3 linked regions of the Homo sapiens genome follow. The protein of the gene in region 1 binds, or shares a complex with, the protein of each later gene. Each region holds a gene or a part of one and is shown in the gene's direction. Other genes may lie near its edges.

Region 1 (7,826 bases):
CTCCTTTTCCAGGTCAAAGTCTGGGACTGCAACACAGGAAAGTGCCTTGAGACCCTGAAGGTAAGGCACGGCGCTGTGGCACTGAGGAAGCTGTGGACAGCTTCTCCCAAGGCAGGACTTGCCTCGAGCCCCACCTTCTACTCTTAGCAGGGAGTCCTGGATGTGGCCCACACCTGTGCCTTCACCCCAGATGGGAAAATCTTAGTGTCTGGAGCTGCCGATCAGACTAGACGTCAAATATCCCGCACGTCCAAATCACCCAGGGACCCTCAAACCTAACACCAACCACCTTAGATGGTGCCGACCTCACCCGCTCCCCTCAGTGGCGCACAGGCATGCCGCTTCTCCCCACAGACGCAAAGTGACTGTGCTGGCATCCAGCAGATCCCCATGGCCAGGACTCTCCAGGCCCCACCAGAGCAGACAACTGTGGTGGGCAGGACGCTTGCTGGAACCCATCAGACACCTGGTCCCCAAAACCAGACCCACCCACCTCCACCCAATCAGTGGAAGTGCCAGGAAACAAAGCAGTCTCAGCCAGCTGTGCTTTATTGACAATGCGCCCCTCAGGCCTTGACCGCGTACTTCCGCAGCGGGTACAGCCGCTCCTTCCGCTGCTGCTTCTTGGTCTTCAGGTTCTCCTCGTGCTTGTTGAGCCGGCGGCGCATGGCACGTGTCTTCTTAGGCCGCAGGTCCAGGGGCTTGTACTTCTTGCCCTGGGAGACAGACGGCAGGGTGAATCCAAGGACCCAGGGCTGAGGAGCTACTGCAGCAGCTAAGGGGGCTGGGGAGGGCCATCCAGAGCCACTCAGGAGGAGGCTGCCACCATGGGACTGCCAGCAGGCCACACATGTCACTAACTCAATTAATCCCCCCAAATCTAAGGCTGGTGGGACCATCCTCATTTCATGTAAGTCTGCTGACCTACTGGGCTGAGTGTCCAAGTCTTGGCAAAGCTGTGGAAGAGCCGGGGCTTGCATCTCAGTCAAGTGACTCCCAACTCAGTGCTCCTTCCACTGCCCGATTCCCAGTCACGAGGACAGTCACATGACAACCTAGTACAGGGCACGCAGCACCCACCAAGCCCCGGGGGTAGTTACCATTACCTCGGCTCTGGTTAGCAAGAGCATGCTGGGGGCTGAGGCAGTACTCTGTCCATCTGTATGCAGGGCCCACCAGCTGCTGCCTGTATGAACGTCCAGCCTCAGAGGCCTGGCTGGCCAAGGCCACTTGCCCCACCTGCTTCCGGCTTTGGGGCCCCTGCCCACAGCTGTCACAGAGCCATCATCTGTCTTTCCATCCTTGGCTCCCACTCCTGCCCCACTTGTTCTCCAGCAGGGGGTTCTAGACCATGGCAGCTCTCACTGGTCTCTCCTGTGTTCTGCAAAGGTCCCCTGGGCCCCCTTCAGGACTGGGCCCTGTGCTGGGAGCTGGCTTGGCAAAGGATCTGACCCAGTCCCTGCTCAGGGGTCCCAGCCTAGTGGGGGAAGACTGAACAGGTAACAAGTGGCCCATGGTATGGGGGATTCTGAGGTCACAGGGCCCCAGGCCCCTGCAGGTGGGCAGAGGACTGCAGAAAGATCCTGGACAATGAGGGCCAGCCCTGGAGGGTACTTGGAAGCAGGAAAGTCTTTGTCCTCCCACATCCCTCACTCCTGCTGGCATCGGCTGGGCATTCGTCCTTTTCACATTGGCTAACCCCCTAGAGTTCTGCTGTCCAACAGAGCAGCCACTAGCCACACACGTAGCTGCTGACATTAAAGGTTTACTTTTGCCACACACGTGCTAGTGTCCCCTGAACAGCTAACATAGCCACACTATGGCCCTTCTCATTTTTTTGAGATGAGGCCTCACTATGTTGCCCAGGCTACACTTTAACTCCTGGGCTCAAGCCATCCTCCTGCCTCGGCCTCCCAGTAGCTGGGGTTATAGGCCTGTGGCACTTCATCAGCCATGGCTGCTTTTCCCTTGTGTCAAATCTTCAAGTTATTCAAACACAATTTGGGTAGTGATGTGGAACCATTTTGCAGATGAAATTAAAGACCCTCATCAGGTAACTTTAGGGGAGATTATCCTGGGTAATCCCAGAAGGCCCGATCCAATCAGCTGTAAGTCTTAAGCACAGGGCTGAGGCTCCCTCCAAGTACCCACTGGGAACAGCAGCTTCAACCTGAGCCCTGAGTCCCAGCCAGCCCCCACAATCACCTATGCCCATTCTTCAGAATACATTGGATGCATGTGCACACACCGTCTCCCCCTAGTTTTCTCTGCTTGAACCCCAATAAGATGAATGTTAAGGACAAGACCAGAAAATGGTTATCAAAATTCAAGACTAAGAGGGGGCCAGACACCTGTGCACACCTCCCAGAACACTAAAGCCGACCCTCCCCAAGGTAAGGTTTGGAACCAGGGCCCATCATGCCATTGACTGTGGGTGTCTAGGCCTCAGGGCCCTCATCTGAAAAATGAGCATGGCAGGTGCCTGGCAGGGACTGACACCCAGTGCCAGTAAGAGGCAGTGAAAACCTTCAACAGCCAGTCCTATCACTGCCCAAGCCACTCAACTGGGAAGGCTGGTTTCAAAAACTGAGTCTCCAGCCAGGACACCCCAAGCCCCAATGAATTCTTGACATCTGCAGCCTGAGGAAGTGGTCTGCAGAGCCACGTGCCAGTGCAAGACACTGGTAGAAGAGTGAGCCCAGCAACAAATTGGGAAGGCTAACCACTCTCAGCCCACGCACCAAGAAAAACCTCTTTACCATGTCCCCGGCCAGGGACGGCTAGCACTTGGCTTCCTGCAGCCAACCCTCCCTATGTCCAGGCAGACTCACCTTGTAGAATTTCCTGAGGTTTTCTTTCTGAGTCTGGTTAATAACTGTGAGAACACGGGCAATGGATTTCCGGACGACTCGGCTACAAAACAGAGATGTCAGTGAAGATAGGGAAGACACATAGCACTACCCAAGACTCAGGACTCACACATAGGGCAGCAATAGCTGCAGCCTCCCCCATCAACCCATCCATATTCACTCAGGAGGAAGGCGTTCTGGGAGTGAGGTCTGAGGAGGGAAGAGAGGGGCATGGGAGAGACAGCAGAGGCTTTATGAGGAAGTGCAGGCTGGATAAATGAGGCAGATCAGAAAAAGACCTTCAATCCCAGAACACGAATTTATCCTGAGGGCTAAGACCCAACCAATGCCAATTTCAATGAGCTGATGGGAAGGAATCATGCCACAAACCAGGCAATCAGGCTAGCTTAGGGAACTGCAGGAGAGAGAAACAAGACATTTGCAAAGTGGAGTCACTACAAGCCAGGAGACTGAAGCAAACAACGAGCCAGGGAGAAGTTATTTGTAGTCATGTCAGGATGAGGGAGTCACCTAGTAGACAGCTGGTCAACATGGTTTTTGAGGATTCAGTGTGCAACTGTGCTTGTCCAATCCTCCCACCCCTGCCTCTACTAAGGTTGTTTGGGGGCAAAGAGGGCAACCACCATTTTTTTTTTTTGGAGACAGGGTCTCACCTGTCAACCAGACTGAAGAGCAGTGGCCCCATCATAGCCTCCCAACTCCTGGGCTCAAGTGATCCTCCTGCCTCAGCCTCCAGAGTAGCTGGGACTACAGGCCTGTACCACCACACCCATCTAATTTTTTTTTGAGAAGTGGACTTTGTACCCAGGTTGATGAACTCCAAACCCATGTTCCTTTCACAAGTCTCCCGCACTCTTAGCCATGTAAAATAACTTACGCTGCCACTCCAGGGTGCAAGCCACCCACCTGCCAAGGGGGTTAAAAACTCAAGTGTTGGTGGGAAGCGGAAGGAAGGGGTCCGGGTAGGCTTTGAAGGCAGCATTAAGATGGGTCTCCGGGGATGCATTCCAGGCACAAGGACCGCAAGGTCAAGGCAGGTAAGAGGCTAAGCACACAACGGGTCTCCCATGCGCGCCAGGATGCACGGAGTGGGCATCTAAGCGGCCAGCTCCTTAAGCCAACTTTGAAATCCTCCGACGATCCCGATGCACACGTGCTCCCCACCCACGAGGGCTGTGATCCGGCCGCCTCACTTACATCTTAGAGAGCTTGGAGGCCGCACCGCCTGTCACTTTGGCGACGCGCAGCTGGGACAGCTCCACCTTCAGGTCGTCCAGCTGTTTCAGCAGCTCCTCCTTCTTCTTCCCGCGAAGATCTCGAGCCTTGATCTTGGCCTGCGCGCAAGAGAGAGTGTGCCTCAGCCAGGCCGCGGGGCCATATCCCCTTCACCTGCGTGGCCAGCCCCCAAAGGCGCGCGACTCGCCATCGACTACGAGTGCGCCGGAGCCCCAACCAGGGCTCAGGACAGTCTCCCTCGCCGGCCGTGCCTTGGGCAGAGTAACCCAGGCCCGGGCCGCGCGCCTCTCCCGGCGCCAAGCGAAGAGGCGGGTTGTGGTGGCGCCAGACCATTCTGCGCGGCGCCCCACAGGCCTAGGTGGCAGATAGAATCCGCGGGCTCAGCCCGCACCGCCTTCCCCAACCCCCGCGCCTCACAGCGCTCGGATGGCGCCCGATTCCGCAGCTCTCACCATTGCTGCACAAGCCGCCAACGCCGCCGCCCGCTCCGAGGGAAAGAGGAAGTAGGCGGGGCTGACCTCCGCAACTACTGCCGGGTGGCGGCGGGCGCGGCCAATGGCGCCGCAGCGGGGGAGCCCCGGCTCCGCCTCATCTCCCCCGCCCCCGAGGAACGCCGTGGTACTGCCCGCCCCGCCTGGTAGGGCCGGAGCCCCGCCTTGTAGTGCTCGCCTCATTCACGGCACCCCTGATAGCGAGGTCGGCGTCACGGTGTAGGCGCGCAGTTGGGGAAACCGAGGCCCAACGTGGGCGGCAGCTACCAGAGATGGCACACGGAGGACTCAAATTCGTCCATTCAGTCATTCGTTCATTCATTCCTTCGGGAAACCTTGCAGATCTCCCAATCTGGGCAACTCTGAGCTGGGCGCCAGTAGTCTGGGGGTGCTGACGGGAGGAGGGGCCAGAGTTTTCAAAGACGATTAACCGAGGCTCACGTCGCGGAGGAATTTAAAGCGCGAGATGGACGGGAGGGGCGGGCTCAGGCAGTTATAATCCAACTCCATAAAGGTTCTGGGGAGGCAGTATATGGAACTGCAAAGAGCATTTACACCTTTTTTTTTTTTTTTTTTTTTGAGACAGAGCTTCATTCTGTCGCCCAGGGTGCCAGGCTGGAGTGCAGTGTCGCGATCTCGGCTTACTGCAACCTCCGCCTCCCGGGTTCAGCGATTCTCCTGCCCCAGCCTCCCGAGTAGCTGAGTAGCTGGGATTACAGGCATGCACCACCACGCCTGGCTAATTTTTTGTATTTTTAGTAGAGACGGGGTTTCGCCATGTTGCCCAGGCTGATCTTGAACTCCTCAGCTCAGGTGATCCCCTCGCCTCGGCCTCCCAAAGTGCTGGGATTACAGGCGTGAGCCACCACGCCTGGCCCCAGCCTTTATTTATTTTTTTTATTTTTTAATTTTTTTTTTCAGACAGGGTCTCGCTCTGTCACCCTGGCTGGAAGGCATGGCGCGCTCTCCGCCCACCAAAACCTCCGCTTCCCGGGTTCAAGCAGCCCTCCCACCTCAGTCTCCCGAGTAGCTGAAACTACAGGCACAAGCCACCAGGCCTGGCTAATTTGTTTATTTTTTGTAGAGCTGTTGCCCAGGGTGGTCTCCTGGGCTCAAGCAATCCGCCCTCCTCGGCCTCCCAGAGTGCCTAGGATTACAGGGGTTAGCCACCTCGCCTGGCCATACAGCCTTTTTTATTTTTATTTTATTTTTTATATATTTTTTGAGATGGAGTCTGGCTCTGTCGCCTAGGCTGGAGTGCAGTGGCGCGATCTCGGCTCACTGCAACCTCCACCTCCCGGGTTCAAGAGATTCTCCTGCCTTGGCCTCCCCAGTAACTGGGACTACAGGTGTGTGCCACTACACCCAGCTAAATTTTTGTATTTTTAGTAGAGACAAGGTTTAGCCAGGCTGGTCTCAAACCCCTGACCTCAAGTGATCCACCCGCCTCAGCCTCCCAAAATACTGGGATTACAGGTGTGAGCCACTGCGCCCGGCTAGTACAGCCTTTTTTAAAGTGAACCTGACCAGGTTTCAAATTCTTGCTCTGCTGCCAAGGTAGTAGTTGAGACTCTTGGGAAATCTCTTCCCCTTTCTTGAGTCTCAGTTTGCTCACATGTGAAATGAGGCATTTATGAGAATTAGAGGAGATATCTGTAAAGCTGTTAACCCGAAATCTGACGCATAACAATGGCTCAAAATATCATTGGTGTTCATGTTCCCAGAGGAAGGAACACTTCAGTAGAGCCCGGAAAGTGAAACGGGAATTCACAAGGCAGGGCATGTTTAGGCTTTCTGATTAATGTCTGCCAACCAGTAGGCATTAATCAGCACTCCAGTGCCACTCCCTTGCCCTTAATAAAGACATGCCACCTCTTAGAGTTATGGTTGAAGCCAGATTGTCCTCTTGTTACTACCAGCTGTAACCACCCACAAGGAGACTTCTCCCATCTCCTATGAGTAGCAACCTCTGTGCAATCCTTTCCTTAGCCCCAAACAGGCTGAAATAAAATGATGCATTTATGTGTCTATTTCCACAGCCAACCTAGAAGTTCTCTGGGGACAGAACCTTGGCGGACAACTGAATTAATTGTTCTAGTCTCCAGGCCCAGTACATGGATGCTTGTTGGATGAATTAATGAACCTTGACCCACACCAAGGTGAGGAAGGCTTTCAGGAGGTGGAGGGATATGGGGAAAAAAGAGAGTAGAGAGAGGGCAATCCCGGCATGGCTTAGACTTTTTTTTTTTTTTTTTGAAATGGAGTCTTGCTGTGTCACCCAGGCTGGAGTGCAGTGGCACAATTTCAGCTCACTGTAACCTCCACCTCCCAGGTTCAAGCGATCCTTGTGCCTCAGCCTCCTGAATAGCTGGGATTACATAGGTGCGTGCCACCATGCCCGGCTAATCTTTGTATTTTTGTTTTTTTCCAAAATGGAGTCTTGCTCTATTGCCCAAGCTGGAGTGCAGGGGCACAATCTCGGCTCTCACTGCAACCTCTGCCTCCCAGGTTCAAGCGATTCTCCTGCCTCAGCCTCCCGAGGAACTGGGAATACAGGCATGCACCACCAAGCCAAGCTAATTTTTGTTTTTTTAGTAGAGACGGGGTTTCACCATATTTCACCTGGCCACCATGTTGGCCAGGCTGGTATTGAACTCTTAACCTTGTGATCCGCCTGCCTTGGCCTCCCAAAGTGCTGGGATTACAGGTGTGAGCTGCCGCGCCTGGCCCATCTTTGTATTTTTTGTAGGGACGGGGTTTCGCCAGGGTGGTCTCAAACTCCTGACCTCAAGAGATCCGCCTGCCTCAGCCTCCCAAAGTGCTGCGATTACAGGCATGAGCCACGGCGCAGTGCGCCTGGACCTTTTTTTTTTTTTGAGACTGAGTTTCATTCTTGTTGCCCAGGCTGGAGTGCAATGGCACAATCTCGGCTCACTGCAACCTCTGCCTTCTGGGTCCAAAGGATTCTTCTGCCTCAGCCTCCCAGCCTGCCTACAGCTACTGTAATCCAAGTAGCTGGGATTACAGGTGCCGCCATGATGCCTGGCTAATTTTTATATTTTTAGTAGAGACGGCATTTCACCACGTTGGCCAGGCTGGTCTCAAACTCCTGACCTCAGGTGATCCACCTGTCTCGGCCTCCCAAAGTGTTGGGATTACAGGTGTGAACCACTGTACCTGGCCGGCATAGCTTAGTCTTAAATGAAAGTCTAGGCCGGGCGTGGTGGCT
Region 2 (8,331 bases), on another chromosome or scaffold:
CAATTGCTGGGAGGCACAGGTTACAGTGAGCCAAGATCGCCACTGCACTCCAGCCTGGGCAACAGCGAGACTCCATCTCGAAAAAAGAAAAAAAAAAAGAGAGAGAGCAAGAAGGTATTTGACAATAGCTTGTGGGTTTCATTGTAGACCTCGGTTTGTCAAACTGACACATCAGGCCATGTGGCTTGGAAGGGGGCTGTGATGGGATGTGGAATGCTGAGCGAGTGTTATGGGGGCCCCAGCTGTGGGGTACATCTGCCTTGCAGGCCTTTAGCCACCTTACCAGATATGTGGCCTTGGGGCTTTGGCCCCAAGGTTTTATCCTCTCCCCTCCTGCTGTCAGTTGGGATGGATCCCTTGATCCCAGGGAAAGTGACCCACATTCTGGGGTGGACCAGTGGGACAAAGGGGAGATTATACTGGATACTGGGAGCTCTTAGAAAAGGTCCCTGCCACCGCCCCCCCTCCATCTCCCATCTCCCTGGTCTGCCTTGGCCCACCCACTGCTTGTCTGCAGTCAACCTAGCTGCCATTTTGTGACCAGGAGGCAATAAAACTGGTGCTTGAAGCTGGGAGGCAGAGGTTGTAGTGAGCCGAGATTGTGCCACTGCACTCCAGCGAGACTCCATCTCAAAAAAAAAAAAAAAAAAATAGCGACAGGCAAGGGGCAGAAAGCCAGCAAGAACCTGGGAGACTGCACCAGCCCTGGCCTGCCTCCCCCACGTCGGCCAGCCCTGGAGAGTCACAGCCTGGGTTTGTGGCTGCATTTCTTGGAAACATGAGAAGGCAATAAAGGAAGCAGGAGTGTGTAGCATCTTCGTCCCAGGGCCCTGCACAAAGCCAATTCTAGGAAGAAACAGAAAGCTCTCCAAGTTGTTCTGGGAGCTCCAGATGAAATCCTTCCATCACCAAGTTCCCTAACCCAAAGTGTTTCTCCACGTACGGCTTAGAAAACTTTCTCCCCCAAAGGAGCCATTTCAAATAATGCCTTCCATTGCTTTCCAATCTGAGGTCTGCTTTCTCCCATCCACTGGGTCTTCCCTCCACGACTGAAGGCCTGTGGGACGGGTGGGCAGGTGGACAGTGCTTGTCAGCTTCACTTTACAGATGTGGAAACTAAGGCACGGTTACACTACAGGTTAAGTGGCAGCACCAGAACTGGACCCACTTTCTTTCTTATTTTTCCTTTTTTGAGATGAAGTCTCGCTCCATCACCCAGGCTGGAATGTAGCCTGGTTACAGTGATCTCGACTCACTGCAACCTCTGCCTCCCGAGTTCAAGTGATTCTCCTGCCTCAGCCTCCAGAGGAGGTGGGATTACAGGTGTGCGCCACCATGCCCAGCTAATTTTTTTTGTATTTTTAGTAGAGACGGGGTTTCACCATGTTGGCCAGGCTGGTCTGGAACTCCTGACCTCAAGTGATCTGCCTGCCTCAGCCTCCTAAACTGCTGGGATTACAAGCGTGAGCCACTGCGCCCAACCTTTTTTTGGGGGGGATGGAGTCTTGCTCTGTTATCGGCTCACTGCAACCTCCACCACCCTCATTCAAGAGATTCTCCTGCCTCAGCCTCCTGAGTAGCAAGTAGCTGGGACTACAGGCATGTGCCACCACACCCAACTAATTTTTGTATTTTTGTTTTGTTTTGTTTTGTTTTGTTCTTCGAGACGGTCTCACTCTGTCACCCAGACTGGAGGGCAATGGCGTGGTCTCGGCTCACTGCAACCTCCACCTCCCAGGTTCAAGCGATTTTCCTGCCTCAGCCTCCCAAGTAGCTAGGATTACAGGCATGTGCCACCACACCCAGCTAATTTTTGTATTTTTAGTAGAGAGAGGGTTTCACTATGTTGGCCTGACCTCGAACTCCTGACCTCGTGATCCGCCCGCCTCGGCCTCCCAAAGTGCTGGGATTACAGGCGTGAGCCACTGCACCCAGGCTTTTTTTTTTTTTATTAGAAATGGGTTTTCACCATGTTAGTCAGGCTGGTCTCACCCTCCTGACCTTTTGTGATCAGCCTGCCTCCGCTTCCCATAGTGCTGGGATTACAGGCGTGAGCCACCATACCCGGCCTGGACTCAGTTTTCTACCACTGGATCATTCATTAACACATCTGTTAAGATGTGTGTTGAGTGACTCAGGCACCGGGCTCTGTCATGGGCCCAGGGGAGAGAAGAGGGAACAGTACAGCCATGGCTGCGGCTCGCATAGGCTTTTAGAGCCTTTACATCAACTCAGGTGACCTTAGTTTACATTTTCGCAGATAGGAAAAAGGAGTCTTGAGGTATGCATATTTGTTAGGATGCTTTGATGATTCGCAGCAGAAAAACTCAAAGCAGCCTAAAAATAAAGTGGAGGCTGCACACCGTGGCTCACGTCTGTAACCCCAGCACTTTGGGAGGCTGAGGCAGGAGGATTTCTTGAGGCAAGGAGTTCGAGACCAGCCTGGGTCACACAGGGAGAGCCCTGTCCATACAAAAATTTTAAAAATTAGCTGGGTGTAGTGGCGCATGCCTGTGGTCCCTCCCAGCTACGAGAGAGGCTGAGGTGGGAGAATCACTTGAGGCCAGGAGTTTGATACCAACCTGCACAACATAGCAAAAACACTATCCTTATAAAAATTTTTTTTTTTTTTTGAGAAGGAGTCTCGCTCTTTCATCCAGGCTGGAGTGCAGTGGCGTGATCTTGACTCACTGCAATCTCCGCCTCCTGGGTTCAAGTGATTTTCCTGCCTTAGCCTCTGGAGTAGCTGAGATTACAGGCGCGCGCCACCACGCCCGGCTAAGTTTTGTATTTTTAGTAGAGACAGGGTTTCACCATGTTGGTCAGGCTGGTCTCGAACTCCTGACCTCAAACGATCCGCCTGCCTTGGCTTCCCAAAGTGTTAGGATTACAGGCATGAGCCACCGCACCCAGCCTATAAAAATTTTAAAAATTAGCCAGGTGTGATGGTGCACACCTGTAGTCCCAAGTGCTCGAGAAGCTAAGGCGGGAGGATCACTTGAGCCCAGGAGCTGGAGGCTTCAGTGAGCTGTGATTGCGTCACTACATTCCAGCCTGGGTAAAAGAGGGAGACCCTGTCTCTAAAACATATTAATTAATTAAGCGGATAACTTGGCTCACATATCTGAATCTTTGGAGGCAGGTTGGGCTCAGACCTTCCAGTCAGAGGTGACCAGAGCTCCGGTTACTTCTCTGACCTTCTCTCGGCTCTGCACTCTCCCTGCAGCTTCCCTTGTTGCTGTTCCACTTCCGCGTTCCACTTACGAGTCCAGATTCCTGCAGCTCGCTCAGAAGGGGCTTTGTGCGCTGGATCATCAGCTGAAGTCCTGGGCTTTGCTTTGATTGGGTCATCTTAGGTCACAAGTGCAGCAGGACAGGGAACACCGTGAGCTGATTTAGACCACTCAGGGCCACTTGGGGTCATTCCCTGGGCATCTACAAAGCGGCAGAAGAGTAGGATGGAAGCCAGGGAAGCAGCAACAGGGTCACCTCAGTTACCCTACACTTGTCCCTGTGGGAAGAGGGCTGCCGGTACAGACCCCTTGAAGCTTTGTATCTGCTTGAACTAAAACCACCGCCTGTGTTTGCTGAGGTTGCCGACATCTGTCTGAGAAAATACGCAGGAGCAGCAAGGTTGGGGGGGCTCAGAAAAGTTCGAGCACTTCCTGTGTGCACACTGTATGACCCGATTCACACACCTGGACACATTTAATCCTCCCAACTACCCTAGGGGGTCGAATTCAGTGGAAAAGAGAGCGGCGGCTAAGGGCACCTCCAATGGGGAGGGTGTCGGGGCAAAGCGACCTGAGACCCCCAGCCACATACTGCAGGACAAACCAATGTCGGCAGGTGAGGACAGGGTGGGAATAGTGTTCCAGGCAGAAGGAACAGCGAGTGTCAAAGCCTCTAAGCCTGACAGGGTGGGAGTCTGGCCTCGGATCTCCAGAGATCCAGGAAGACCCTGCACAAATACTAGAGAGAGGGGTCTGAAGGAGAGAAGAGGAGGGAAGGTTTTTGTTGTTGTTTGAGAGGAAGTCTCGCTCTGTTGCCAGGCTGGCGTGCAGGGGCCCCATCTTGGCTCACTGCAGCCTCTGCCCCCGGGGTTCAAGCAATTCTCGTGCCTCAGCCTCCCGAGTAGCTGGGATTACAGCAGCGCTCCATCACGCCATGGGGCTCCTTGCAGCTAATTTTTTTTTTTTTTGAAACAGAGTCTCACTCTGTCGCCCAGGCTGGAGTGTAATGGCGCGATCTCGGCTCACTGCAACCTCTGCCTCCTAGATTCAAGCGATTCTTCTACCTCAGCCTCCCGAGTAGCTGGGATTACAGGCATGCGCCACCACGCCTGGCTAATTTTTGTATTGTTTAGTAGAGACGAGGTTTCACCGTGATAGCCAGGATGGTCTCGATCTGAGCTCGTGATCCTCCCGCCTCGGCCTCCCAAAGTGCTGAGATTACAGGCGTGAGCCACCGCGACCGGCCGAGGTAAGGTTTTCACTGGGGTCTCTTCCATCTGCCTGGCCGCCAGGCCACGTATCCACTGAAGAGGCAGAGGGTCAGGATGGGAAGACTCCGGGGACCACCTAGCCCAAGACCCGCAATCAGGCGGCTCTGCAAGGCTAACCGGGTAACTTAAAGAAGTGAAGCCGATTGACGTAAAACAGAAAGGAAAGAAGTTAACTGGCCGGCCAGCGTCAGCAGGGGCGGCCAGTGTCACCCTGCCCGGGGACAGCACCCCTGTTTCGTGGCGAGGACACGGAGGGCCAAGGGGGCGGGGCCGGGCTGCCCTGGCCACGCCCGGACCGCCTGCTCCCCGCCCAGGGCCTGCACAGTTGGCGCCCACCGGCATCAGCGTGAAGGGAGCTCCTCGCTGGCTGCCGACGGGGCTGCAGGGCTCGCTAGCCGCTCACCTGCGTGTGAGCGCGGAGCCCGCAGTACCCGCCGTCCGGGCTCAGAGGACGTGACTCCCCGACCCTGCGCCCGGCAGTCCCCGGGGGCCGTGCGCCCGGCCCAGGCTCGGAGGTCCAGCCCAGCGGCGGCTCAGGCTGCGCGCCTGGCTCCCAGCCTCAGTTTCCCCATTGGTAAAGCATTGACGGTGGTTGCGGACGGCTTCTGCGGACAGAGCCTTGGGCTCCGACGTCTGCGCGGGTACCGGCAGCACCCCCACCCCGAAGGGAGGGCGGGACCTGGATCTCGCGACCGCTGCCCCAGGTCCCCGCCCCCGGGCCCTACCGGGCTGAGGTCGGCAGGCCCCGCCCCCCGCCCACGAGGAAGTGGCTGCTGCTCCGGCGCGGAGCCCAGAGCCGGTTCGGCGCGTCGACTGCCCAGAGTCCGCGGCCGGGGCGCGGGAGGTGAGGGCCGTGGGGGCGCCCGGAGGTGGGGGTCAGGGGAGCCACCTGGAGGTGGGGGGGCGCGTAGATGTGGGGCGCCGCCTGGGAGTGAGCGGGACTGGAGGGATGAGAGGGGGTGCAAGGAGGGGACCGGGGGGCGCCTGGAAGTGAGGACGCATAGATGTGGGGCGCCGCCCAATAGGGGCACGGGGATGAGTGGGGGCACATGGAGAGGAGGGGGCGCGGGGACGAGGGGCTCACGGAAAGGAGAGGGAGCCCTGGGATTGGAGGGGGCGCGGGGGTGGCCGCAGGGCCAGACTGTGGAAACGCGGGCTCCCAGCGCACCGGGCGCCCTCGGGGCGTCCCCAGCCCCCGGCCCCAAGCTTCCGCCTCGTGCCTTCCGCCCCTGCTCCCCGGCCCCCATCCCCAGCCTTGCCCCGCGGTCGGTCGGTGTAGCCCCGTTACTTCGGGCCGGCGGGGCCCCACACCCAGTCACTTCCCCTCCATCCCCGGAGCCTTCCGGGTTGCAGCCGCCGGGAAATGAGCTGGCGTCTCCTGCCGCCCCGCCCCTGCCCTCCTGGCCGCTCCCGCTGCTCCCACCCGCCTCCCCCGGGCCAGGTCCGAGGGGTCCCGTACGGGGCGGGCCTGGCTGGCGGGGTCCCGGAACGCACCCCCTCAGCTGCAGGGCTCCGCGGCCAGGGCAGATCCGAGCAGCCCCTCCCTTTCCGGAGGCGCTGGGAGAGCAGCCAGGCCGCCTAGGGCGGGGCGGGGCCGGGCTGCACCCGCGGGCAGTGAAGGGATCAGGAGTGCAAGCCTGGGGAGTCAGACCTCCCCCTGCCTCCTCTGCCAATGCAGCCCGGAGGCTACCACCACCCATCCCGGCCGGGCGCGGTGGCTCACACATAGAATCCTAGCATTTTGAGAGGCCCAGGCGGGAGGATCGCTTGAGGCCAGGAGTTGGAGGCCAGCATGGACAGCATTGCGAGACCCTTTCTCTATTAAAATAAATAAATAAAATGTAGCCAGGCGCTGTGGCTCATGCCTGTAATCCCAACACTTTGGGAGTCGAGGTGGACGGATCACTTGAGGTCAGGAGTTCGAGACTAGCCTGACCGACATGGTGAAACCCTGTCTCTACTAAAAATACAAAAATTACCCAGGCATGGTGGCACGCACCTGTAATCCCAGCTACTCAGGAGGCTGAGGCAGGAGAATTGCTTGAACCCGGGAGGCAGAGGTTGCAGTGAGCCGAGATCACGCCATTGCACTCCAGCCTGGGCAACAGAGCAAGACTCCGTCTCAAAAAAAAAAAAAAAAGCCACGTAACATGCCTGTAATCCCAGCTACTTAGGAGGATGAGGCAAGAGAATTGCTTGAACCTGCCTTGGCAGTGAGCCAAGACTGTACCACTGCACTGCAGCCTTGGCAACAGAGCCAGACTCCGTCTCTAAATAAATAAATAAAATCTTAGGGACCTAGGTAGGAGTGCCAGCTTCTCCCTTCACTGGCCAGTGACTGGTAAGCCACCCAACTCCTGCCAGCCTCAACTTTCCTTATCTGGAAAATGGGAACCTTAAAGACTGGGAGGCTGAAATGCAATACTGCAAGACACCTGGCAGCGTGTCAGGCGCTGACAGTATAAACGTGCGTTTGTTGCTCACCTTGATCATAGTGTTCCCCCAGGTGAACCTAACTTCCTGGCCTCCAAGATTTGGGGTCAGAGTCCCAAGCTGCGTCATTTAGTAGAAGCCGAGTGACTTTGAACAAATCGTTGCTTTTGTCTGAGCCTGGGTTTCCTCCTGTACAAACTGAAGGTAAAAAGCAAACAGGCTGGGCGCGGTGGCTCACGCCTGTAATTCCAGCACTTTGGGAGGCCGAGGCAGGCAGATTACCTGAGGTCGGGAGTTCGAGACCAGCCTGACCAACGTGGTGAAACCCCGTCACTACTAAAAATACAAAATTAGCCAGGTGTGGTGGTGGGCACCTGTAATCCCAGCTACTCAGGAGGCTGAGGCAGGAGAATCGCTAGAACCTGGGAGGCGGAGGTTGCGGTGAGCCAAGATCATGCCGTTGCACTCCAGCCTGGGGTTACAAAGCGAGACTCTGTCTCCAAAAAAAAAAAAAAAAGCAAACAAAAAATGTCTCAGGCTTGCTTCAGGGGGAGAATGGTGAAAGGTCTGGGTAAAATCGCCCTGATAGATGCCGGTAAAGTTTGTTTCTTACATATGTCTGTACATAATCCATTGATAGGTCTTTTTCTTTTTTTCTGGAGTCCGGGTCTCATTGTGTTGCCCAGGCTATAGTGCCATGGCTTGATCATAACTCACTTTAGCCCCAAACTCCTGGGCTCAAGGGATCCTCCTGAGTAGCTGGGATTACAGGTATGTTCCTCCATGCCCAGCTAATTTTTAAATGTTTAGTAGAGGTAGGGTTTTGCTGTGTTGTCCAGGCTGGCCTCAAACTCCTGGCCTTAAGCGATCCTCCTGCCTTGGCCTCCCAAAGTGCTGGGGTTACAGGCATGAGCCTCCACGCCTGCCTTATACGTGCTTTCTTTTTTTTTTTTTTTTTTTGAGACAGTGTCTTGTTCTGTTGCCCAGGCTGGAGTGTGGTGACACTACCTTGACTCACTGCAGCATCTGCCTCCCGGGTTCCAGTGATTCTCCTGCCTCAGCCTCTCAGGTAGCTGGGATTACAGGTACATGCCAATATGCCCGGCTAATTTTTATATTTTTAGTAGAGACGGGGTTTCACCATGTTGGCCAGGCTGGTCTCGAACTGCTGACCTCAGGTGATCCGCCCACCTCGGCTTCCCAAAGTGCTAGGATTACAGGCGTGAGCCACCGCGCCCAGCTTCTTCTTCTTCTTCTTCTTCTTTTTTTTTTTTATTTGGAGGTGGCGGAGTTTCACTCTGTCGCCCAGGCTGCAGTGCAGTGGCACAATCTCAGCTAACTGCAACCTCTTCCTCTCGAGTTCAAGTGATTCTCTTGCCTCGACCCCCCGAGCA
Region 3 (7,867 bases), on another chromosome or scaffold:
CTCTTTCTTTTTCTTTCCTTTTTTTTTTTTTTTTTTTGAGACAGGGTCTCACTCTGTCACCCAGGCTGGAGTGCTGTGGGGTGATTTCAGCTCACTACAACCTCTGCCTCCCAGGCCAATCAGCTAATTTTTGTATTTTTAATAGAGATGGGGTTTCACCATGTTGGCTAGACTGGTATTGAATTTCTGGCCTCCACTGATCCACCTGCCTTGGCCTCCCCAAGTGCTGGCATTGCAGGCATGAGCCACCGTGCCCAGCCACAATCTCTATTTCTTTTAAATACAATAAAATAAAAAACAATAAAATTATAATAAAAAAGTCATTCCTGAGTAGGATGACTCGGGTTAAGAATGACTTAGGTTTTCATGATAGATCTGGAGTTTCCAAAACTCTGGGTAAACAGAGCTCAGGCTTTGAGGACAGGCACACCTGTGTCTAATCCTGCTTCTGCTACATGATAGGTACATTTGGGCAGGTAACTTAAATTTTTTAAAGCCTTATTGGAGTTACAACATGAAATTTACACATCTCAAAATTTACCTATTACAAGTGTGCAGTTTATTTTTAGTAAATTTTTATGGTTGTGTAACCATTACCAAAATCTAGTTTTAGTATTCCATCAATCCGTAAAGTTGTCCCATGCCCATCTGCAGCCAAACCTGGCTTCCAGTTTCAGCCCCAGCAATCACTAACCTGCTTTCTGTATCTATAATCTTGCTTTTTCTATATTTGTGATTTTCCTATGAAATCACAGTCTTTTTATCTGCTATAGTGTTTTTTTACTTTCATCCATGTTACAGCATGTATTGGTTTATTTTTATCACCAAATATTCTATTGTATGGCTGTACTACATATTGTTTACTCATTCACAAACTGATAAGACATTTGAATAGTTTCCACTTTTTGCCTATTATGAGTAATTCTGCAATGGACATGTAGGTATGAGTCCATGGACATATGTTTTCATTTCTTTTAGGTATATACCTAGGCGTGAAATTGCTGGGTTATATGGCAATTTATGCTTAATTTTTTAAAAAACTGTCAAACTGCTTTCCAAAGTGCCTGTACCATTTTACATTCTCACCAGGAATGTAGGAGTGTTTGTTTCTCCACATTCTTGCCAAACTTGTTTTCCATTTTTTTTTGTTTTATTTTGTTTTGTTTGTTTTTGAGACGGAGTCTCGCTGTCACCCAGGCTGGAGTGCAGTGGCACGATCTCCGCTCACTGCAATCTCTGCCTCCCAGGTTTAAGCGATTCTCCTGCCTGAGCCTCCCAAGTAGCAGGGATTACAGGCACCTGCCACCACGCCCGGCTAATTTTTGTATTTTTTAGTAGAGACGGGGTTTCACCATGTTGGGTCAGGCTGGTCTCAAACTCCTGACCTGAAGTGAGCCACTCGCCTTGGCTTCCCAAAGTGTTGGGATTACAGGTGTGAGCCACCTAGCCCCGCCAAAACTTGTTTTCTATTTTTCTGATTATAGCCATTCTAGTGGGTATTAAGTGTTATCTTATTATGCTTTCAATGTGCATTTCTCTAATGATTAATGATGATGAATATCTTTTTATGTACTTATTTGCCATTCATAAATCTTCTTTGGTAAAATATCTATTCAAATATTTTCTTCTAGTTCATGGCTTTTCTTTTTCTTTTTCTTTTTTTTTTTTTTTTTTGAGATGGAGTTATGCTCTGTTGCCCAGGCTGGAGTGCAGTGGCATGATTTTGGCTCACTGCAACCTTTGCCTCCTGGATTTAAGCAATTCTCCTGCCTCAGCCTCCCAAGTAGCTGGGATTGCAGGTGCCCGCCACCACGCCCAGCTAATTTTTGTATTTAGTAGAGATGGGGTTTCACCATGTTGGCGAGGCTGGTCTCAAACTCCTGACCTCAGGTGATCCACTCGCCTCAGTCTCCCAAAGTGCTGGAATTACAGGCGTGAGCCACTGCGCCCGGCCCTTTTGCTTTATTTTCTACTTTTTTTTTAATTGCTTGTTGCCTAAGACAGACCAAGATTTTTTGTTTTTGTTTTCTTCTTCTTTTTTTTTTTTTTTTTTTTTTAGATAGGGTCTGGCTGTCACCCAGGCTGTAGCGTAGTAGCGCAATCTCAGCTCACTGCAAATTCTGCCTCCTGGGCTCAAACCATCTTCCCACCTCTGCCTCCCAAGTAGCTGGGACTATATGCACAGCTAATTTTTGTATTTTTTGTAGAGATGGGGTTTCACCATCTGGCCTAGGCTGGTCTTGAACTCCTGAGCTCAAGCGATCCACCCACCTTGGTCTCCCAAAGTGCTGGGATTACAGATGTGAGCCATTGTCCCAGTCTAGATTTTTTGTTTCAATACATGAACTAAAAGCTTTAAATTTCTATTATGTCAACTATCAATTTTTTCTTTTATAGATCACGATTTTAGCGTCATATCTAAGCAAACTTTGCTTAACTTAATATCAAAAGATTTTCCTCTTTTTCTTCTGAAATTTATAGTTTTAGCTTTTATATTTAGGTCTATGATCCACTTAAATCAATTTTTATGTGTGATGTGAGGTAAGAATCAAAGTTCTTTTTTTTCCCTCCCACATCATTCATTGAAAAGATTACCCTTTCCCCATGGATTGTTTTAGCACCATTGTTGAAAATCAACTGACCATAATGTAAAGGTTTATTTGTGGACTATTTGATTCCATTGATCGATATATCTGCCTCTATGCCAGTATTACAGTCTTCATTACTGTAGCTTTATAATAAGTTTTGAATTCAGGTAGTGGAAGTTCTCCATCTTTTTCTGTTTCGAAATCCTTTTATTCTGGTTCCTTTTCATTTCATATAAATTTTAGGGCCAAACTTGCCAATTTTTTTTTTTTTTTTTTGAGACAGAGTCTTGCTCTCACCAGGCTGGAGTGCAGTGGCACGATCTCTGTCACTGCAACCTCTGCTTCCCGGGTTCAAGCGATTCTCCTGCCTCAGCTTCCTGAGTGGCTGGGATTACAGGCGCGTGCCAACACGCCCAGCTAATTTTTGTATTTTTAGTAGAGACGGGGTTTTGCCATGTTGGTCAGCCTTGTCTTGAACTCCTGATCTCAGGTGATTTGCCCTCCTTGGCCTCCCCAAGTGCTGGGATTACAGGCGTGAGCCACCGCGCCCGGAATAATGTTCTTTCTTTAAAAATACAAATTAGCAATCCCCTTAATTCCACAAAGAGGAAAAGTAAAAGAACACAGAAATGCTTGAGTTCAATTTGCTGAGACCAATAAAATGCACTTTCAAGAAAACTGCACAGCACTAGCATTGGAGGCCACAAAAATAAGATACGGACTCTATACTCAAGGAATTTATGAACAAATAAATTTTTCTGCTGGCTGAGGTACTTCTCTGACTGTTAAAGCAGGTAAAACGAAGAAATGTTCCTCCGAGACTTCCTACCTATTCTAACCTCTCAAACTTCTAATTGCAACAATGGCAGCTTTATTTTTATCTTAATATTTATGTGTTGAGGGTTCCATATAAGATTAGATTTGAATAAAGCACTGTATGCCTTTAAAAAGGTTTGAAAATCACTGGTCTAATAAAAGAACAGTGAAAACTGACAGGCAGCTATATTATAAAAAGAATACTGGATTGAGGGTTCATGATGACTGTTTTATTCTAGTTGTTGAACATGTACAGCCATGTCGAAGGAAAAGTTCTATTTCTCACCTCTCATAAAGGATGGCATTTTAAAGGTGAATTTTAATGTCATTCATCTAATAAATATTTGTTGCATGCAATAAGCACAATGTTATTCATATATTCATAGTAAAGTAATAGGGAGAAAGGAAGTACGGAATATCCTGAGGATATCAGCTGTCATCAGAGATGTAACAAGCTGGGTCTCAGAGCACAAGTTTGCCAATTGATTAAAAAGGAAAAAAAATGAGGCATCGTAGATAGAATCATAGGTCCAGAAGAACAGAATTAGAAATAGCTACCACTGAATGAACATTTCCTCCATGCATAGACTTTTATCCTCACCACACCTATGGAGATAGAAGTTATTATCCCCATGCAGACAGGGGTATGCCAAAATCACAAAACTCGTGAGTGGCAGCGCCACGTTTGAAACTGGGGTTGTCTGATTTCAAAGCCAAGGCTCTGGGTTCACAGAAGTACATGTACTTAAGAGGTGTGAAGCAACATGGGACTACTGGAAGGAGGCGGTGAGCCACGAGGCTGGAAATGCAGGCACCTGCTCTCGCTCACTTGACCATAGAGCAACTTGGGCAAAGAAGGGGTGGGCTGACATTGGAGTATGGAACAAACGCATGATTTCAAATAAGCATGTGTGTATCCATCCCAGTTCTGTCCGCTGAAAAGGCCTAGAAGCAATAACACACCAAGCCCTGTCGAATGGTGGGGTCCGCCAGGACCTCCAGGCTTGCTCCCCGCCCTACCCGCCAGCTTCTCCGCCACATTCCACTGCCGCAGCAGAACCGGTGTCCTTCACCTGCCTGCGTCTTCTGCAGTTCGTTAAGCAGCGCCCTTAGCTCCTGTGACACTTTAGGGAGAAAGCCGCAGCACCGGCGATGTTGGCCGCCATTAACGCCCGGCAAAGCGCCCGGAACTAGAAGCAGCGAAGAACCCGGGTGGGCAGCGACCGTGACAGCCGAGCCGGAAGCGGAGCTGCGGGAGGGGCCTCGACGCTCCTCCATCTTTTATTGGAGCTCACCGCTGCCAGTCGCGCTGCCTGCCCGTCCCACCCTTTTCGTGCAGGCATTCAGCTAAATGACGGGCGGAGCCCGGCGGCGGCTTCCGGTCGGGGGAAAAAAGTTGGGCCGAAGGAGGGGCCGGGAAGACGCAAGAGGAAGAAGAGAAAACGGCCGGGCGGCGGTGGCTGTAGGTTGTGCGGCTGCAGCGGCTCTTCCCTGGGCGGACGATGGACAGCCAGGGCAGGAAGGTGGTGGTGTGCGACAACGGCACCGGGGTAAGGGCCGCGCGAGGAGGCCTTGGCGGCCACAGACGCCGGCGGGGACGAGCAGCTGGCGCACGGGCCCTCGGCCCCCAGGGCTGCACCTCCGGGCCCTCGGGGCGAAGGGGCGCGGGGCGGTGCCTCCCACCTCCGCGGGCGTGGGAGCGAGCCGGCCGTTCCCTGGTCTCCCTTGAGCCTGCCACCCATTTAGCCTGCCACCCCCTCACCCTTCCGGGTGGGGGCGGCGGGCGAGACCGGCACTGGACATGGAGCCTACTGACCGCCCGGCAGGGACCTGCTCCGCGCTAATGCGGGGGCAATTGGGCTAAAGCGGACGGAAGCGTAAAAGGCTCGGTTTGTGTGTTCCGAGAAGGGCTCTTTTCCCCAGGGCCACCGGTTTGTAAAAAGGAGAAAGACCTAGAGGCCTTCCTCTTCCTGTATAGTTGAAGATACACCAAACGAGAAGCAGGAAGCGGGTTTACTTAAAAAAAAAAAAAAAAAAAGGGAAGTGCTGTCATGGAGTGTGGACCTCAGCCCTTTCGCTGTGTTTGTTGGGCTTTTTATTAGTTTTTTCGAGGGAAGGGGTCCAGATCGGCAGCGCATCGTTCACTTTTTGTTTTACATACTAGTATTTGGCCCAGGAGTAGGCCCACGGAGACCAGCATGTTCCATTGAGTGGTTTTGGGTGACCTAGGATCCCGCAAGACTCAAGTGTTAATTCCACTAGCCTTAGGGGAAGTTAATTAGTGTTGATTATCCCACCCCCAGCCCCCTTTTTTCCCTTCGTTTCAGTATACAGGTAATGTTAGCCTTTAAGATTCAAAAATTGTAAAATCTGACTAAAGCACTGATTTAGAAACTATTTGAAAATTGTTTCTGTAATCCCAGCACTTTGGGAGGCCCAGGCGGGCAGATCACCAGAGGTTAGGAGTTCGAGACCAGCCCAGCCAACGTGGTGAAACCCCGGTCTCTACTAAAAATACAAAAATTAGCCGGCCGTGGTGGTGCTTGCCTGTAATCCCAGCTACTTGGGAGGCTGAGGCAGGAGAATCCCTTGAAGCCAGGAAGCGGAGGTTGCAGTGAGCCGAGATTGCGCCACTGCACTCCAGCCTGGGCGACAAGAGTGAAACTCCGTCTCAATTATAAAAAAAAAAAATTGTTTCATTCAGACCTCCCTCTTGCCAGATTAAAAAAAAATGTATTTTGGGTAGCAAAGTCAGCAAATTAGAAGATGGAAATATTATTTATTCTGGATGACTTCTATAGTGATTTCTAACCATTTTGATGTTGCAACATTTTGTGAGTTTTCTCCCCTCCCTCCCATAAATATGATGTATGAATTAAAGTTCATTTTACTTGAACAAAACACTTTGGAATCTGAATTGTTGAGGGGGAAAAGAGCTGGTATTTACTGCCATAATACTGCCCTTGATTAGATTTGTTACACAATTTTACAAGCAATAATTATGGTAGCTTCATCTGAACTGTGTTAAAAATGGACTAGAGTAAAAAGAGTGTTAACGTACATTGAGGCCAGGCGCGGTGGCTCATGCCTGTAATCCCAGCACTTTGGGAGGTCTAGGCGGGCGGATCACCTGAAGTCAGGAGTTTGAGACCAGGCTGGCCAACATAGTGAAACCCCGTCTCTACTAAAAATACAAAAATTAGCCGGGCATGGTGGTGGGCGTCTGTAATCCCAGCTACTCGGTAGGCTGAGGCAGGAGAATCGCTTGAACCCGGTAGGCGGAGGTTGCAGTGAGCCGAGATCGCACCACTCCAGCCTGGGCGACAGAGCAAGACTCCGTCTCAAAAAAAAAAAAAAAAAAAAAGAAAAACAAAACATATTAATGTGACGGTTTTTAAGAATGTAATATTTTTAAAAAGGCAGATCCACTGCTATGGAAACGTCTAAGATTTTAAGTTGAAAAAGGTTTTAGAATGATTCAGTTTAAGTGTGTGTTCCTTATTAAAGATGTATGTCCACAAACTTGTATCCGCATATGAAAGTTTTGGAGGGATACATAAGAAATGTTCATAATGGTTACCTATGAGACAGAGGATAAGGGAGTGAGGGAAGATGGAGAGGACTTCATGACCTTTCTGAATTATTGGAAAAATGTTCTTTATTTGAACAAAGCAAGTATTATTAAACTATATTTAAACTAAATTAACCATAAACGCATGTTACATGTGCGGCTAAAATTCAGTTAAATGTGCTTTTTAAAAAAGTATTAGCCTGATTTCCACTATAGTTTCAAATTGGCCTCTAAATAAATAAAAAACTTTAAAAATTGAATTTAAAATTTTTTGTTTTGTGATTGTGTCAGATACTCTTTTTAGAAAGTCAAGCCAGTTATATTTTAATGAATTCTTTTAGGGGTTCAAGGTAATGAGCCCTGTATTTGTAGTATATATGAGTTTTTAAATATTAAATTAGAATGGGAATGTTAACCGAAGCTGATTTTTTTTTTTTTTTTTTTTTTTTTGGACACAGGATCTAGCTCTGTTGCCCAGGCTGGAGAGCGATGGCGTGATCTCGGCTCTCTGCAACCTCTGCCTCCTGGGCTCAAGCGGTTCTCCTGCTTCAGCCTCCCGAGTAGCTGGGACTACAGGCTTGTGCCACCACACCCAGTTAATTTTTTTATTTTTGTAGAGACTGGGTCTCCCTATGTTACCCAGGCTGGTCTTGAACTCCTGGGGTTAAAAGATCTGCCCACTGCGGCCTCCTAAAGTGCTAGGATTACAGGCTTGAGCCACTGCACCCTGCTGTCAGAAGCTAATGTTATGTTACTATTCCATTAGTTAGCTAACATTAGAAGGCTGATTTTAGGCTGGGCGTTGTGGCTCATGCCTGTAATCCCAGCACTTTGGGAGGCCGAGGTAGGAGGTTCACTTGAGGTCAGGAGTTTGAGACCAGCATGGCCATCA

Evidence for each region.
Region 2: the proteins of ARPC5L (region 1) and ARPC1B are in contact, whole or in part, in a cryo-EM structure (PDB 6YW6), measured with the Homo sapiens proteins. Residues at the interface, in NP_112240.1 of Homo sapiens: Asn21, Lys22, Arg102, Gly139, Leu140, Gly141, Ile144, Arg145, Thr148, Arg150, Lys151; in NP_005711.1 of Homo sapiens: Arg118, Lys138, Arg142, Phe164, Ser201, Gly203, Trp204, His222, Asp223, Ser224, Thr225, Leu240, Ala241, Ser242, Glu243, Thr244, Leu245, Pro246, Phe281.
Region 3: the proteins of ARPC5L (region 1) and ACTR2 are in contact, whole or in part, in a cryo-EM structure (PDB 6YW6), measured with the Homo sapiens proteins. Residues at the interface, in NP_112240.1 of Homo sapiens: Arg11, Arg12, Val13, Asp14, Ile15, Asp16, Glu20; in NP_005713.1 of Homo sapiens: Tyr225, Glu263, Phe266, Gln267, Arg319, Lys322, Gln323, Ser338.

The regions. Positions count from the first base shown.
Region 1 is NC_000009.12:124,857,352-124,865,177, forward strand, and holds the start of ARPC5L (actin-related protein 2/3 complex subunit 5-like protein), read left to right. Parts: upstream 1-4,778; 5' UTR 4,779-5,047; intron 5,048-6,636; 5' UTR 6,637-6,756; intron 6,757-7,826. Other genes in the region: WDR38 (WD repeat-containing protein 38), read left to right, coding at 13-60, 148-279; RPL35 (large ribosomal subunit protein uL29), read right to left, coding at 567-716, 2,832-2,913, 4,068-4,204, 4,559-4,561. UniProt on the Homo sapiens protein: May function as component of the Arp2/3 complex which is involved in regulation of actin polymerization and together with an activating nucleation-promoting factor (NPF) mediates the formation of branched actin networks.
Region 2 is NC_000007.14:99,369,434-99,377,764, forward strand, and holds the start of ARPC1B (actin-related protein 2/3 complex subunit 1B), read left to right. Parts: upstream 1-5,296; 5' UTR 5,297-5,348; intron 5,349-8,331. UniProt on the Homo sapiens protein: Component of the Arp2/3 complex, a multiprotein complex that mediates actin polymerization upon stimulation by nucleation-promoting factor (NPF).
Region 3 is NC_000002.12:65,223,004-65,230,870, forward strand, and holds the start of ACTR2 (actin-related protein 2), read left to right. Parts: upstream 1-4,827; 5' UTR 4,828-4,906; coding exon 4,907-4,954; intron 4,955-7,867. UniProt on the Homo sapiens protein: ATP-binding component of the Arp2/3 complex, a multiprotein complex that mediates actin polymerization upon stimulation by nucleation-promoting factor (NPF).